Linked DNA regions of Homo sapiens: region 1 is linked to region 2. A link means that fine-mapping ties the variant in region 2 to the expression of a gene that starts in the linked region. Tissue or cell type: tibial artery. Region 2 holds a variant in brackets; the other region holds the start of a gene. All regions are shown on one strand. Distances are between the middles of the regions.

Region 1 (8,000 bases), 29 kb after region 2:
AGTCGCTAGCATACCACATACTTAATTTACATCCTGTTAATAGTCTCCCACACTAGAATGAAACTCAACTAAGCCTGGGGTTTTTGTCTCTTTTATTCATGGTGTATCTCCAGCTCTTAGAATAGTGCCTGGAACAGAGTAGGAGGTGTTCACTCCAAAAATATATTTTTGGAGTGAATGAATGATCACCTACACTTATTTAAGCACTTGCTGTGTGTTAGGGACTTCTGTAAACACTCTATTTAATACCTTACTTAGCTCATCTCATCTTCATAACCACCCTTCGAGGTAATACAATTATTTCTATTTTCTAGAACACTGGCTGTCAAAGAAGTTAAATCACTTGCCCAAGGTGTTATCATTTTTACTTGGCAGTGCAGGGCAGAGATGTGCCTGGCTTGAAGACCTTAGCCATCACCTATGCAAAATGAGCTGTGTTCAGGTGGAGGAGAGCAGAAGGCAGAGGGGGATAAAGGAAAAGAGAACAGAAAACCTCTGGAAGAAACTGGTTAACACTCTAGCCCAGCACCGTCCAGTAGGGCTTTCCACGATGATGGAAGAGATCTGTATCTGCACTGTTCAGTACAGTAGCCACTAGCAATGTGAGTGTTGAGCACTTAAAATGTGACTAGTGCAACTAAGAAACTAAGTTTTTATTTGATTTCATTTAAATTAATTTTTTGGAGACAGGGTCTCCTGTCGCCCAGACTGGAATTCGGTAGTGCAAACATGGCTCCATGCAGACTGGACTCAAGTGATTCTCCCACCTCAGCCTTCTCAGTAGCAGGGACTACAGGCTCATGTCACTGTGCCCAGCTAATTTTTTAAATCTTTTTGTAGAGACGGCATCTCACCCTGTTGCCCAGGCTGGTCTCCAACTCCTGAGCTCAAGAGATCCTCCTGCCTCAGCCTCCCAAAGTACTGGGATTACAGGCGTGAGTCACTGCGCTGGCATAATTTAAATTTAAATAGGTACACGTGGCTAGTGGCTACCGTATTACAGAGCACAGCTTCAATCCAGACTAGATTCATTGACTGGAAACTCTTTTGCTTGCTGGGTCTGTGGCTTCCAGGCCTGGTGGGACCAGGATTCAGGAGACGGGGGAAGGGAGTGTATATTTTCAGCAGTCAGCACCTAGGTTACTTTGTGTAATCTACAAATACCCAGTGAGGGGAGTATTTGTTTACCCTGGCTGCTGAGGGCTGGAGATGAGGGTCAGGGTCAGGATCAGTGTGCCTGCTGCCTTGGGATCTTGGTCCTCAGTCAGAGGAACTTCCTCTCTCTAACCACCCCCTACCCCAAGCCAGACAATCTGTTCACGGGTAGTTGGTACCCAGTGGCCCGGTCAGAGTCTGGGGTTTCTCAGCCCTTCTCAGGATTTACCCATGACCATTTTCAGGCTCCTTTTAGGGTGGAGTCTGCATAGCTGATCCTACACAGGCCTCACAGGCTCTACACCGACTCAAGAAATGTTTGCTGCAATGAATAAACAAGCAGCAAGCCAAAGCAAGGAGAGATTTCTGGCAACAGAGAGCCCGAAGCGGGAGGGCCTTCATTCAGTTCCTCAATGACACCATTTAGGCAGCCGTCCTCAAACCTGACAGTGCCTAAGAATCACAAGGGGCAGTTTGTTTAAAAGGACATGCCCCAGGCCTCACTCCTAGGTGTTCTTATTTAATAAATCTGGGTTAGGGTTCAAAAATCATCATGTTTACCAAAGCCCTCCCACCCAGCACACACACCAGATCTGATGCTAGGCTCAGAACTAAGCTTTTGAGAAATACTGATTTAGGGTGAGGCTAGGCACGTGTGTGGGTAATGGGGGCAGGAAGAGGTGCCCTAGAAGGAAATTCAGAAGCTGAGATAGCTCTTTGAGATACTTAAAGGTATACATACTTCTTTTGTGTATTTTCTTGCATTGCAGTAGGAAGAGGGAACTTGAGTCACCCAAGTCCAGCCTTCCAGCACCAGAGTGTTGGAACCGGCAGAAGCCTAAGTCCCAGCTAGTCCAGGCCCTTAGACAACGAGTACACCTGAGAAGTCCTGGCAGCTCCAGGGTGTGTGGGCGGCAGCTGATCCCGAGGAAAACAAACCTCTGGGCTCTAAGAGCCCCGCAGGCTGTACCTGCGGATTTCCCCTCTCAGCCAACTCCAGCCTCTGCTCCCCCTCTGCTCCTCACTTCTCTAAAGCGAAACATCTCACAGTCATTTGCTCCATGCTTCCTGTACGATTTCTTTATTTTTACTCTCCAGTTTGTGGGCTGAGTCTGTGTGGGTGTGGGAGAGGGGCTGGGTATTTCTACTTCTCTGCATTTTCCTTCTGAGCTGGGAGGACTTTCACTTCCTCCCCAGTCTCTCAGTTCTGCCTTTCATGGGCTGTTCAGGCCATGAGACCACCTCTCCTAATCCTTCCTGAGCACCAGGGAAATGGAAAACTGACTGTAACTGGCTGCCCTGGAAGGGCCTAGCATCCACTCAGGAGCAACAGGTGGTGGCAACTACAGCAGTAACAGTAACCTCCCTGGGGCAGGAGCCTTGGGCTGGCGTGACAGCAGCAGAGGCAGCCAAGGGAGCCCTGCTTGCTCCTGAGGCCATCCGAGCCCTGGAACCTGTCTTGCATCCCTCTAACACCACCATGGGCAAGCCTGGGCCTCCACTTCCCTCCCTCAGCCTTTTCTGTCCCAGCACTCAGCCAGACAAGAGTGACTCTCAGCTTGCCCCAATGCCCCCAGCTCTGCCTGCTGATCTAGTTCTATATTTGAGAGTCTTAGACATCTACCACACTGGAGCACAGAGCCACGGGAGGGGTTGGCCTCCATCACCGGGGCCTGACAACCTGCCATCCCGCCATCCCAACCTCCCTGAACCTCAGTCTCCTCTTTCAAACAAAGTTATATGTAGATACAGTGGAGGATTAGAAAACATTGAATGGGTGCCCCAATCAACAGTGTCTGTTACTGGCAGGAGTTATAAATGTGTATTGAAAATGGAATCCCTTCTTTTTTTCTTCCAATCATAAGGACCACAACCATCCAAAAAGCAAAGAGAGCCTCAGACACTCCAGCTCAGCCTCTAGTTGCAGAAAGTCACCTCCTCAAAGGGAGAGATCAGTGTTCACCTAGGACTGGAATTCAGTGTGATCTAGTGGTTGAAAGTCTTAGCCTTCAGCCTCCCCAGCCTGTCAGCTGTTCCAGAAGCCTGTCAGCTGCCCCTTAGTTTTCTGCTGTGTCCTCAAAGAAGCACTGGGACCCTAAAATAAACCTCTGGAGAGCCAGTTGCCCAACTCTTCCAGAAGAGAGACTAGACACGCAGCTGGGCATGCGGCCAGAGCCCAAGAAAAGCCTGGTTTGCCAGGGGCAGATTACAGTCAACGGGAGCAGTAAGTGCCTCTGCCCTCTCCCTCACGGGTCCTTCTCTTTTCTAGAGGGGAGTCCAGCACGTGCCAGCCCCAGGAGGTCTCACTCCCTTGCCAGCCTCCCGACTCAATTCCCAGGACTGGGGCACTTGGCTTCCCAGAGTTGGTGGCTGCCAAAGTGACTCCGTGCAGCGGGAAGATCCGTGACTCAGCGCCCGTGATGTCAGTCCCTTCATAGTCAGGGCACTGTCATCCACACATGCACCCGCGGGGGTGGGGGGAGGACCAGGCGAGGTGGACCCCCAATGCAGAGGGAGAAGAGGGGCGCTGGTACAAAGGACTCCCCAGGCGGGTACATCACCCCGCTGGGGCGCGCCCTCTCGGGCAGTCTCCCCTTAGAGTAACCTGGGACGCGGTTGTGTAAAGGCTCCTGGGGGCACTGGGAAGGAAGCTCGAGAGTCAGGTTTGCAAGGACACAGTCCTGTACACAGACCGCAGGGTTCCCGCACAGCTTCACCGGGCATTCCGGGGAGCGCTCCGGACCAAGGGAGCAAGCGCAGCAGGGGGCGCAAGAGCCACTACCCGCGACCACACAGCTAGGTACCCGCGGGGCCTCAAGGCAGCCACAGAAAAGGGGATCCGTCGCACCTCCTTTCCTCCCTCCAGCCTCCCACAGACTGCGGTGACCAAGGCGGTTTCCCCCAGCCGCTAGCTGCCCCAGCCCTCCAGGTGCGCCCGAAGCCCTTACCCTGCGCAGGGCAGCGCCTTGGGGCCAGCGCCGCTCCCGGCGCGGCCAGCAGGGCAGCCAGCAGCGCGCAGCCGACGGCCAGCATGCTTCCTCCTCGGCTACCACTCCATGGTCCCGCAGAGGCGGACAGGCTAATGGGAACCGGGCGGCAGGGGTGGCAGGGGCGGGGCGGGGCGGTGGGCGGGCAGGCGGGCTCAGGCCCCGGGGGCAGCCCCCATCCGCAGGAGCCCGGCTCTCTACACACACTGCGAGTCCCTCGGCCCCGCGCCGCGCTCGGCTCCTCTCCCTCTGGCCCGGCTCAGTGTCAGTGCGACTTCCCACTCGCACATGACTCAGAGCGGCGGACGGTCCTGGCAACGCAGGAAAACATTTGAGGAACTCGCGCTGGAGCGTCTCTGGGCCGTCCCAGGGTGCGGTTACGAAAGCCGGAGCGGATGGCGCAACAGCCCCGCGCACCGGCCGACCGAGGGGGTGGCTTCCTGCCACAGCGCCGCACCTGAGCGGGGAGAACAGGGGACCGCCAGCCCCACCAGAGCCCTTCCTCCCGGTTCTGTTGATGAGAAAAGGGCGTATCAGCCACCAGTGGGCAGTGGCCTAGTTTTGATTTTTGGTTTCGTGAACGGGATTACGCTGTGAAAGGCACACCTGGAGAGCCCTCGAGGAGGCGATGTTCCTCTTACCCTTAGGGTAAAACAGTGCTTGGTAGCCCGGTTGCCCACTGGAATCAGCCAGGAGCCCTAAAACCCACCAATGTCTGGGTCGGGTCTCCAGAGATTCTGATTTCATCGGTCTGGGGTGAGGCTTGGGCATCGGAAGACTCACCACCGTAAAGGCACAGTCTTTCTGCCCAGCTGCTCCTCGCAGGCTGCAGCAGAGGCAAGGAAACGGTTTGGACTTTGCAGTCAGATAGACCTGGGTCCCCATTTAGACCTACCATCTACTGTGTCTGTGACTTCGGTTCAGAATCTGAGTCTCCATTTCCTCATCTGTCAGAGATAAGAAAGCCTATGCTGCCCAGGGTTATTAGGAAGGTTCTGTGGATGGCACCTAAACACCTGACACACGGTCTGGGCCACACGTGCTCAGTAGACATCAGAACGTTCATGGCTGCCCTCCTGACTTGACAGACAGACACTAACACCAGGGGCAGTGGCTCACGCCTGTAACCCCAACACTTTGGGAGAGCCGGGTGGGTGGATTGCTTCAGTCCAGGAATTCTAGACCAGCCTGTGTAACAAAGTGAGACCCCCATTTCTATAAAAAAATTTAAAAATTAGCTGGGTGTGGTGGTACACACCTATAGTCCCAGCTACTAGGGAAGCTGAGGTGGGAAAATTGCTTGAGTCCGGGAGATCCAGGGTACAGTGAGCCGTGATTGGGGGCTGCTACTCCAGCCTGGATGACAGTGAGACCCTGTCTGGAAAGAAAAAAAAAAAAAGAAAAGAAAGAAAGAAAAGGAAGGGAGGAGGGAGGGAGGGAGGGAAGGAGGGATAGAGGGGAAGGAAGGAAAGGAAGGAGAGAAAAAAAGAAAGAAACAAGCACCTGGCTTTTGAGCAACCACAAGGACCTTGAAGGGGACCATCTGTCCGTCCCTTGGAGGGGAACTCTCTCAAGGACCCCCACAGAGCCTAAAGCTGATAGGATGGCCTCATAGCTGAATCTGGAGGGAAAGAAAAATGCTGAAATAAAGTTTAGGCTGAGAAGCTTCTAGACCAGCAACTGCTCATTAGAATGTGTTTTTCTACCTTTGGTTTCAGGCCAATCCTAACCCAGATCAAAGATCCTGGGACAGCTGGAACAGGCATGGCCTAATGGAACTCCCAAGTGGACAGGGCCAGGCATGGACGGACAGAGCTTCTGAAACAGTCCTCAGACCCCGTGCATCTGGATCTTTCTGTAGGAACCACCCATCAGCAGTGCCAGACAGAACCAAGCACATGCACTGATCCACCGCACGATGGGAGCTGGTGTGGGTGAGCTTGTTTGCTTTAGCCATGCCCACAGACAGGAACAGAAGAGCACAGTGGAGGCCACCAGCCCTCTCGCCTGCTATTTCAAAAGGGGTTGCAGCAGGGCTGGAAAGCGGTTCCCACTGTGGTTGCCCCCTTCCTCTCTGTGGCACACACAGACCTGAAAATAACCAGAGAGGGACTGTGAGCTGCCAGCCTAAAACAGGAAGGCTGCAGAAAGTCCTAGGCTCAGATAGGAGAGTTTAAAAGAATGTTGAAACCAAGAACGGGCATCACAGATCCCACCTGTCTCTGCACCAAAGCAGACCTCCCCCTCTCTAATCTACTGGTGGGGAGCCTGTGTGCTCTGTAGTCATGCAGATCCCAGCTTTACCACTTGCTGGCTGTGTGACTTAAGCAAGCTATTTAACTTCTCTGAACCCCTATTTCCTGATTTGTAAGATAAGCGCAGCAATATACAAAGTTTTAGTGTTGTGGTTCACATGAAAAAATTTAATCCTGGCCAGGCCGGACGTGGTGCCTCACACCTGTAATTCCAGCACTTTGGGAGGCCAAGGTGGGCAGATCATGAGGTCAGGAGTTCGAGACCAGCCTGACCAACATGGTAAAACCACATCTCTACTAAAAATACAAAAATTAGCCGGGCATGGTGGTGCGTACCGGTAGTCCCAGCTACTCAGGAGGCTGAGGCAGGAGAATCACTTGAACCCAGGAGGCGGAGGTTGCAGTGAACCGAGATGGCACCACTGCACTCCAGCCTGGGCAAGAAGAACGAAACTCCCTCTCAAAAAAAAGAAAAGAAAAAGAAAAAAGAAAGAGAAGAAAGCATACCTGCACAATTCAGCCTGACCTGCCCTCACCCAGACAACAGAAGGAACAATGAAGACTTTAGTTGTCTGAGCCAGAACACTTCTCAGATAACTGTGCTGCTTACAAATTGCTTTACATACACAATCTCCTCTGAAATTCTCAACCCTGAATGCTGGGAGACATTGCCCCCAATTTTCAGATGAGTAGACTGAGGCTAACAGAGGTAAAGTGGCTTGTTCAAAACTGCACTACTAGTAACTGGCAGCTCCAGGGTGAGGTCTGGCTCCTGGCCCAGGACTCTCACTGAGCAAGGGCTCGGTCGGCCCACCCAGGACCAAAGACACTGCAGACCATGGCAGCAGGCACTTGGTGTTCTGTAGTCTGTGAGGGGAGAGCAGAGAGCAGAACCTGGTGTGTGGGACACCCTCTCCTTCACCGGTGTTCCTGCAGGGACCCTCCGTCTCCTGTAAAGGGGGAAGCCCTAGGCTGACTCCCAGCAAGCAAGTCCTCTCTCACCTTTCACCTGAAGCGATGAAGCATCTTAAAGTTTGCCTAAAGCAGAAGTCTACAGGAGACCCACAGAATAAATATGTAAGGTTATTTTGAAACCAAAAGGGACTTGGTCATCATTGCTTCTCCTCCCTCACTTTTTAGATAAGGAGCTAGGCCTCAAGAAGAGAAGTTGCTTGGTAAAGATGGCACAGGCAGTGGTGACAGAGCTGGTCAAGATCCCAGATACCCTGACTCAAAGTGGTCTTTTTAAATTCCCACCCTGCCCCCAACCTCCAGGTCTGGGCTGATGTGTTGGGGCCATTCTCAACTGTGAGAGTTTAAAACTATGCACTTTATTCTCTATTCACCATGTGAATCCATCTTTAGGGACAACGATTATTCTGAGAAGTGCAGTGGGGTAGGGCTGAACTGACCTGCAGACCCCTCCCTGGCCTCTGGCCCTGGAGCCAGCCCCTGGTTAATCAATAATTACAGGAAGGTGCTTCTTATTCTCTGAAACCTTCCCCTCCTGCTTTCTCATCAGCCTGGGAGGAGGTTACGTGGGCAGACAGAGGTCTAATAACAGAACTCAGTGTCTGGCCAGTGGCATCCCTCAGAGTCAGGC
Region 2 (8,000 bases):
TTTGACCCCAAAGTGAGCCATGAAGCCATTCTACAACAAAAACACTGGGAACAATAAAACAGATTGCTGCAAGGGGTAGTAAGCTCTCTGTCTCTGGAAGCATTTAAGCAGAGGCTGGCTGACCACTCTCTGGGTTGTGGTCAGGGAGATTCTTGCATTCTAGATCTGCTAAATCCTAACCTTTCATAGCAGGGTGTTGATAGATAATGTCTCAAGTGGTTTTATCAGGGAAAAAAAAAAGCCATATAAGCTTGTTGTTTAGAGTTAAGGAGGGCACCAACAGAGGAACTAGAAACAGAAAGAGTCAAGCAGCTTCCTTAGAAAGCAGGACTAGAAATGGAAGGCATGGGACAAGGGACCACTGCTCAGTGTTATAAGCTGTTTATTACTTCTTTGCCATGTGCATGTATTAATTTGATTAAAATTTTAAAAGTTTAGGCCAGGCGCGGTGGCTCACACCTGTAATCCCAGCATTTTGGGAGGGCGAGGCGGGTGGATCACGAGGTCAGGAGTTCAAGACCAGCCTGGCCAACACAGTGAAACCCCGTCTCTACTAAAAAAAAAAAAAAATTAGCCGGGCGTGGTGGTGTGCACCTGTAGTCCCAGCTACTCAGGAGGCTGAGGCAGGAGAATAGCGTGAACCCAAGAGGCAGAGCTTGCAGTGAGCCAATATCATGCCACTGCACTCCAGCCTGGGCAACAGAGCGAGATTCCGTCTAAAAAAAAAAATTTAAAGTTTAGTCAGGTGCAGTGGCTCACACCAGTAATCCCAGCACTTTGGGAGTCTGAGGCTGGTGGATCACTTGAGGCCAGGAGTTCGAGACCAGCCTGGGCAGCATGGTGAAACCCTGTCTCTACAAAACATTTTTAAAAAATTAGCATTGTGGCACACGCCTGTGGTCCCAGCTACTTAGGAGGCTGAGGCGGGAGGATTGCTTGAACCCAGGAGGCAGAAGTTGCCGTGAGCTGTGATTGCACTGCTGTACTCCATCCTGGGCAACGAGGAGAAAGCCTGTCTTCAAAAAAAAAAAAATTTAAGTTAAAAAAAATTTCCGACCGGGCACAGTGACTCATGCCTATAATCCCAGCACTTTGGGAGGCTGAGGCGGGTGGATCACAAGGTCAGGAGATTGAGACCATCCTGGCTAACACGGTGAAACCCCGTCTCTACTAAAAAATAGAAAAAATTAGCTGGGCGTGGTGGCAGGTGCCTGTAGTCCCGGCTGCTCGGCAGGCTGAGGCAGGAGAATGGCATGAACCTGGAAAGCGGAGCTTGCAGTGAGCCAAGATCATGCCACTGCACTCCAGCCTGGGTGACAGAGTGAGACTCCGTCTCAAAACAAACAAACAAAACAACAACAACAACAACAAATTTCCATGGAGTTTTAAAATATATGTATTAATCAGGCAGTTACTAAATAATAAGTTTCCAAAAGTAATTGACAACATGGGGAATATTACATTTATATATATAAATACACACACACATACATGTACCTAGAAAAAGGAAAGCAGCATACTAACATGTTCTCACTGGTTTTCTCTAGGGAGTAAAAGTACTGGTGATAATTATTCTTCATATCTTTCTGGAATTTTTCATGCTCTAATTTCAACAATCCCCAATGGCAATTATTACTACCTTTAACATTTGAAAAAAATAAAAAGCCCTAGATTAAATACGGCTAACTTCTCTGCAGTGCATCCCTCCAGCTGTGGTGGGATCCCCACCCGCCTGCCCTGAGTCTGGGCTGGCAGCTGAGGATGAGAAGCCACAGGGAGAACCCAGGGCCTCGGCCACCAGCCAGCACCATCGTCAGACATGTGACTGAGGCCATCTCAGACCATCCCAATCTGATGGCAGCTGCATTCCTGATTCAGGCAAGACCAGCAGAAGAGCTGCCTAACTGACTGTATTTTTGAAATTTCAAGCCGATAAATGATGGTCGTTTTTAAGCCACTAGTTGTTTGTTTTGAGACGGAGTTTCGTTCTTATCACCCAGGCTGGAGTGCAGTGGCGCGATTTCGGCTCACTGCAACCTCCGCCTCCTGGGTTCAAGAGATTCTCCTGCCTCAGCCTCCTGAGTAGCTGGAATTACAGGCACCTGCCACCATGTCCAGCTAATTTTTTGTATTTTTCGTAGAGACAGGGTTTCACCATGTTGGCCAGGCTGACCTCAGGCAATCCACCCGCCTCAGCCTCCCAAAGTGCTGGGATTACAGGTGTGAGCCACCACACCTGGCCTAAGCCACTAGTTTTGAGGCAACTTGTCACATAGCAATGGATACCTGATGCAATGACAGTTGAAACATCCCTTCCTTTCTCAGTGCCCACCGCAGTACCTGTCCAAGGCGTGCCCATGGCCTCCGGGCTCCACTCGCTCCACTCGCCTTGCCCGAACTCCTCCTGGGCACGAAGCTGCACCACGTGCCTCAGGCCGCTCCAGGCGTCGTGGATGACACAGTGATGCTGGAGGTCCTTGACCTGAGGGCGGGGGCACGGTGACTCTGGGGAGGTATCCAGGATGGTGCTGGGCAGGTAGCACCCCAGTGGGTTGGTGCCTTGGCCAGCCCTGTGCTTCAGCTGGCAGAGGCCTCTAGAGGCTCCCACAACCCCAGAGGCTCTGCTAGAGAGGGGGTTGCCCTCAGGGCCCACGGAAGCTGAAGCAGAAAGTCCCTGCCCCACCCATGCACTATAGAATCCTGCAAGCCACAACCCTTGACATGTCTACAGCCCAAATCTCTTCCCACATTGCTCTCCTCACAGACAAGCCCGGGAAGAGGAGACTGGCCTGGCATTATCCTTTTCATTTAATAAATGATATACCACCAAGGCTCAGAAAGCTTAAAACATTTATCCAAAGCAACGAAGGTAGCCAATTGTGAAGCAGGAACTAGAGCCTATGGTTTTCCTTTTAGTACCCTTTCTATTTTTTTTTTTTTTTGACATGGAGTCTAACTCTGTCGCCCAGGCTGGAGTGCAGTGGTGTGATCTCTGCTCACCGCAACCTCCACCTCCCAGGTTCAAGGGATTCTCCTGTCTCAGCCCCCGAATAGCTGGGATACAGGCGTGCGCCACCACACCCAGCTAATTTTTTGTAATTTTAGTAGAGACGGTATTTCACCATGTTGGCCAGGATGGTCTCGAACTCCTGACCTCAAGTGATTCGCCCACCTTGGCCTCCCAAAGGGCCGGGATTACAGGCGTGAGCCACCATGCCTGGCCTCTAGTACCCTTTCTACTACGCCTAAGCATCTAGGGGCGCCTCTCTGACCAGAAGTAAAACATAAATTTACCATCCATGTTGTGAATGTCTTTGACCGTTCAGCCCGATATCTGAGCTCAAACCGTAGTCTGTAGAAAGATGAGTTCCAGGAGTGGGGGTCTTGCCAGGTGACACTGAGCCAGCGGGGGTTTCTGGCCACGGCAGTGACTGTGATGTTGGCAGGCGGATCAGGCTGCACTGTGGGAAAAGTGAGCATGACTCCTTTGCAGCACCAAATATAGTG[T/G]AGAGAAGCCCATGTAGGCTGAGATCCCAGCAAGCAGGGCCCCACCCAGCCCCGTTCACTCCCCATGCACAGCTCCACAAGGGCCTGCTTTATCATTGCCACACCTCCCGGCAAGCAACGCCCAAAAGGCACCAACTCACCAAACCCCTCAACCACCCCTTCCCTGCCACTCTGAGAAGTCGATAAGGAGTATTAAATCAAAAGAGAAGGAAACTGCTGGAGAGGGGGTTAGAGCTTACGTACAGATTCCACAACCCTGAAAGGTTTGAGTTTTGCTGAACTTGCTCCCGACACTACTGGCGACGCACATGGACACTATGTAGAAAGAGCTGTCTCCCTCCGGGACTGCTAACTGGCAGGAGAACTTCTGGGACTCCTGGGAATACTGGCACGGCTCCTGGAAGTCTTCGGCCGGACTGTTCTGACTGTTAGACACAAAACAAGGGCAGGGCTTGCCTGTCAGTTTCGCACAGACTCAAGACGGGACAGAAGGGGGAAGTGGAATCCCGGGGTTTGAATCCCAGCTCCAGACTTATAAGCCCTGTGCCTCTAAGTCTCCTTTTCTCATTTGAAAATAGGAATATTAATACTACTTACCTAGTAGGGGTTAAGTTTTTGTTTTGTTTTGTTTTTGTGATAGAGTCTCACTGTGTCACCCAGGCTGGAGTGCAGTGGCGCAGTCTCGGCTCACTGCAACCTCCGCCTCCCTCCCAGGTTCAAGAGATTCTCCTGCCTCAGCCTCCTGAGCGTGCCCAGCAAATTTTTGTATTTTTAATAGAGATGGGGTTTCACCATGTTGCCCAGGCTGGTCTCGAACTGCTGACCTCAGGTGATCTGCCCGCCTCAGCCTCCCAAAGTGCTGGGATTACAGGCATGAACAATCACACGTGGCTGGTTCTGTTAAGACTGAGAAATAAGGCCGGGCGCGGTGGCTCACGCCTGTAATTCTAGCACTTTGGGAGGGCAACGCAGGCAGATCATGAGGTCAGGAGTTCGAGACCAGCCTAGCCAATATGGTGAAACCCTGTCTCTACTAAAAATACAAAAAATAAAATAAAAAATTAGCCTGGCGTGGTGGCGCATGCCTGTAGTCCCAGTTACTCAGGAGGCTGAAGCAGAAGAATCACTTGAACCCAGGAGGCAGATGTTGCAGTGACAGAGACTGCACTCCAGCCTGGGCGACAGAGACTCCATCTCAAAAAAAAAAAATTGAGCAATAAATGTAAAATCTAGAGATGAGGAAACTAGCTGGATTTACAAATATATATAAACATGTAGCCTAGCGCCTGGCACGAGGGGTGAGGGGAGCTAGGCTGGAGGGCTCAGCTAGTCACTCAGGCAATGGTCGGCTGGCCAGCTCTGGTCTCCCGCTGGGCCTGTGCTCTTGGCACTGTAGGGGATATAGAAATGAATCAAGAGAGGCCCCACCCTGCCTTCAAGGCACTAACAAAAAAGATCTGTCCTCAGATGACTAGACACCCAGCAGAAATGCCACTCCAGAGACACAAAAAGTGCTAGAGGGGTTCTGGCAGGTGAGTCCAGAAAAGAATTCTGGGTAACTGAAGACATTCGAGGTGAGTCAGCCACCATCCCACCTGGCCTGGAAACCTGAGGCTTCACCCTCTTATGACACATGTGGGCATGTGAGGCCACGTCAACCACTCACCCTCCAGCTGGGGTGACGAGTCTGCCACCTCTGACTTGGGTTCGAACCCTGGGCTCCTGCTGAATCCAGCACATGGGACAAACCCAACCTTTCCAGGCTGAGTTAAAGCCCCTTTCCTCCTTCCCCCAACACCACCCAGGCTTCCACCCAGCCACGAAGGCAGGGTCACCGACTGCTTTACGTGTGTGCCCAGGTGGGGTCAGAGGGCCGGGGCTCAGTCTTGTTGGCCCGCTTCCTCCCACTGCCCCAGCACTGCGCCTGGTCCAAGGCAGAGGCTGAGCTCACCCCTGCCTGTGGAAGAAGGAGGGAGCAGTGCTGCAGTTGGGCAAGGGTGTGAAAGCAGACACACAAGAGAAAAAGCAGAGCTCCCAGTAATCCCTTTCCAGGGGCCTGTCTCTTCCAGGCCCTGCAGTGGCCTGAGGTCTGGGTGGGGCCTCAGTGGGGGCTGGGGCCCCTGAGGCTCTCGAAGCCACTTCCCCTGCTCTTTCCTCACTTCAAAGGCGCCCAGTGGTCATGCTGACTCTTCAAAGCAGATGGAAGCAAAGGCACGAGGCTGCTCGGGAGGACAAGCACTGTACTCTCTCCCACTCCCGCTGTCAACATGGAAAGTATTCCAGTCAAGCCGGGCGCGGTGGCTCACGCCTGTAATCCCAGCACTTTGGGAGGCCGAGACAGGCGGATCACCCTAGGTCAGAAGTTCGAGACCAGCCCCGCTAACATGGTGAAACCTCATCTCTACTAAAAATACAAAGATTAGCCAGGCGTGGTGGTGTGCGCCTGTAATCCCAGCTACTCAGGAGGCTGAGGCAGGAGAATCGCTTGAGCCCGGGAGGCGGAGATTGCAGTGAGCCGAGATCCCACCACTGCACTCCAGCCTGGGCGACAGAGCGAAACTCCATCTCAAAAAAAAAAAAAAAAAAGTATTTCAGTTGAAGTGTCAGAAATGACAGAGCTTTCCACAGGCTGGCCTGGGAAGCTGCCAGCCACAGTCTCTATCCTGGCTAATCCTATCTATGGTACAAGCCTTTGAGGTACAAACAAGGTGTATCCTTTGCTGGGCTGTGAAGCTATCCAGGCTTGGGGCATGAGCTGACAGTGCTAATGGCAGCTGCATCATTCACAGATGGTAATCCGCACTTTTCATCATAGAGGACAGAACAAAAACATGACTGCCAGGCAGCCCAGTAACTCTATGGAAACAGACCCAAGTGGGAGCTGAACCACCCTATTGAAGTCACTGCTCTGGCTTTCTGATACAGTAGTCCTGCCTTATCTGAGGTTTTGCTTTCCAAGATTTCGGCTACCTGTGGTCAACTGCGGTCCAAAAATATTAAATGGGAAATTCCATAAATAATCACTTCAGAAATTTTAAAGTGCCCACTGTTCTGAGAAGTGTGACGAGATTTCACACCGTCCCGCCCAGGACATGAATCATCACTTTGTTCAGCATTCCTGCGCTGTGCATGCTACCCATCACTCGTCCTGACATCCACCGCCATCATCATGGCTCGGTGACCCAGAGTCACCCAAAACAGCTGATCCTCCTTCTAACACATGGTCAGAAAGCCCTAGTAGCCTAACACTGAGTCACAATGCCTACATCATTCACCTCACTTCATCCCATCATGCAGGCATTTCACAACCTCATATCATCACAAGAAGGGTGAGTACAGTAATAAGACATTTTGAGAAACAGAGAGACCACATTCACATAACTGTTATTACAGTATATTGTTATCACTGTTCTATGCTATTTTTAGTTATTGCTAACCTCTTACTGCACCTAATTTATAAATTAAACTATCATAAGTACATATCTATAGAAAAACATACTATATATAGGGTTCAGCACCATTTGCGATTTCAGGCATCCACTAGGGGTCTTGGAATGCGACCTCCTTGCCCTATATTCTGATGACTGACAGCTCAAACTCAATTGTAAACCTCTGGACTAAGGGAGACTGTGGCTCTGGGATGGAGACCAGCAAAACTGCAGAGGCAGATTTGTTTTCAGCATCTTCCACCTCCTCTACATCCATGCCTGAACCCATCCCAGGTCTTCCCACGTTAAGCCGTCTTCCGGTGATGATGCAGAGCCCCCAGGCAGGCGTGACTTCTCCCCCCACGGCCCCAAGCTCCCTCTCCCCCGCCCATCACCGCTTTCTCTCTCGTGTCTTTATCATGGAAATAGCCTGATACGCCCACAAGGGCCCAGACACTGATAATGGTCTGGCTGTGCTACACCCCCTCCCAGGGATATTTGCATGTTTTTCAGAGCAACGCCCATAATCTTCGGACTTTGAATGAAATCAGACAGACTGGGATTGAATTCCCAGCAGAGCCACTTACTAGCTAAGTGAACCAAACCTGTTAATCAGTCTCTGGGCCTCAGTCTCTCCATCTGTTAAGTGAGAAAAATAAAGCCCACTTCCCATAGCTGTTGTGATAACCAAGGTCAAGTGAATAGGACAAGGTTCCAAGCACAAGCACAGTGCCTAGCTCAGGGGGGGCAGTCAAATGTAAATCTCAGTTCCCTCTCATCTCCTCTTCCTCAGCCTGAAGGAATTAATTCCTAATGATAATGTTTTGAAATCACCTGAACCAGCCCCTCTCTGGGGGGCCTCGGGAAGGAGGGAGCCAACATGCACATAGCTCAGCCCAAGATACTTACAACTTCCTCACCAAGAGCACAGCCTTTGTCGTCAGGGATGGGGTGCTCCGAGGACCCCACTCACAAACAACATTGCTGAGGGGGCTCTTCCGGAAGCAGGAGAGCTGGGGCTCCTCGGGGGGAACTGAAAGGAAAGCATTGCAGGTGTCAGCAGGC

Evidence for each region. PIP is the estimated chance that this variant, and not a neighbour inherited with it, causes the effect.
Region 1: IL6R starts here. The variant in region 2 is fine-mapped to the expression of IL6R in tibial artery (GTEx, PIP 0.96).

Annotation. Positions count from the first base shown.
Region 1 is chr1:154,401,818-154,409,817 of GRCh38, reverse strand. It overlaps IL6R (interleukin 6 receptor), which reads right to left and starts at 4,475. Exons shown (of 10, transcript NM_000565.4): 1 at 4,104-4,475. The coding sequence starts at 4,188. It overlaps IL6R-AS1 (IL6R antisense RNA 1), which reads left to right and starts at 3,254. Exons shown (of 2, transcript NR_147855.1): 1 at 3,254-3,379; 2 at 5,861-7,497. RefSeq lists an enhancer at 3,345-3,951 and silencers at 4,191-4,340, 4,541-4,670.
Region 2 is chr1:154,430,451-154,438,450 of GRCh38, reverse strand. It overlaps IL6R (interleukin 6 receptor), which reads right to left. Exons shown (of 10, transcript NM_000565.4): 3 at 7,845-7,968; 4 at 3,751-3,932; 5 at 3,295-3,461; 6 at 2,341-2,482. Among named protein-coding and RNA genes, the nearest start is that of IL6R-AS1, 28 kb to the right of the region's middle. RefSeq lists enhancers at 3,935-4,768, 4,769-5,600, 5,601-6,434. The variant T/G (reference allele first, on the strand shown) is at 3,508.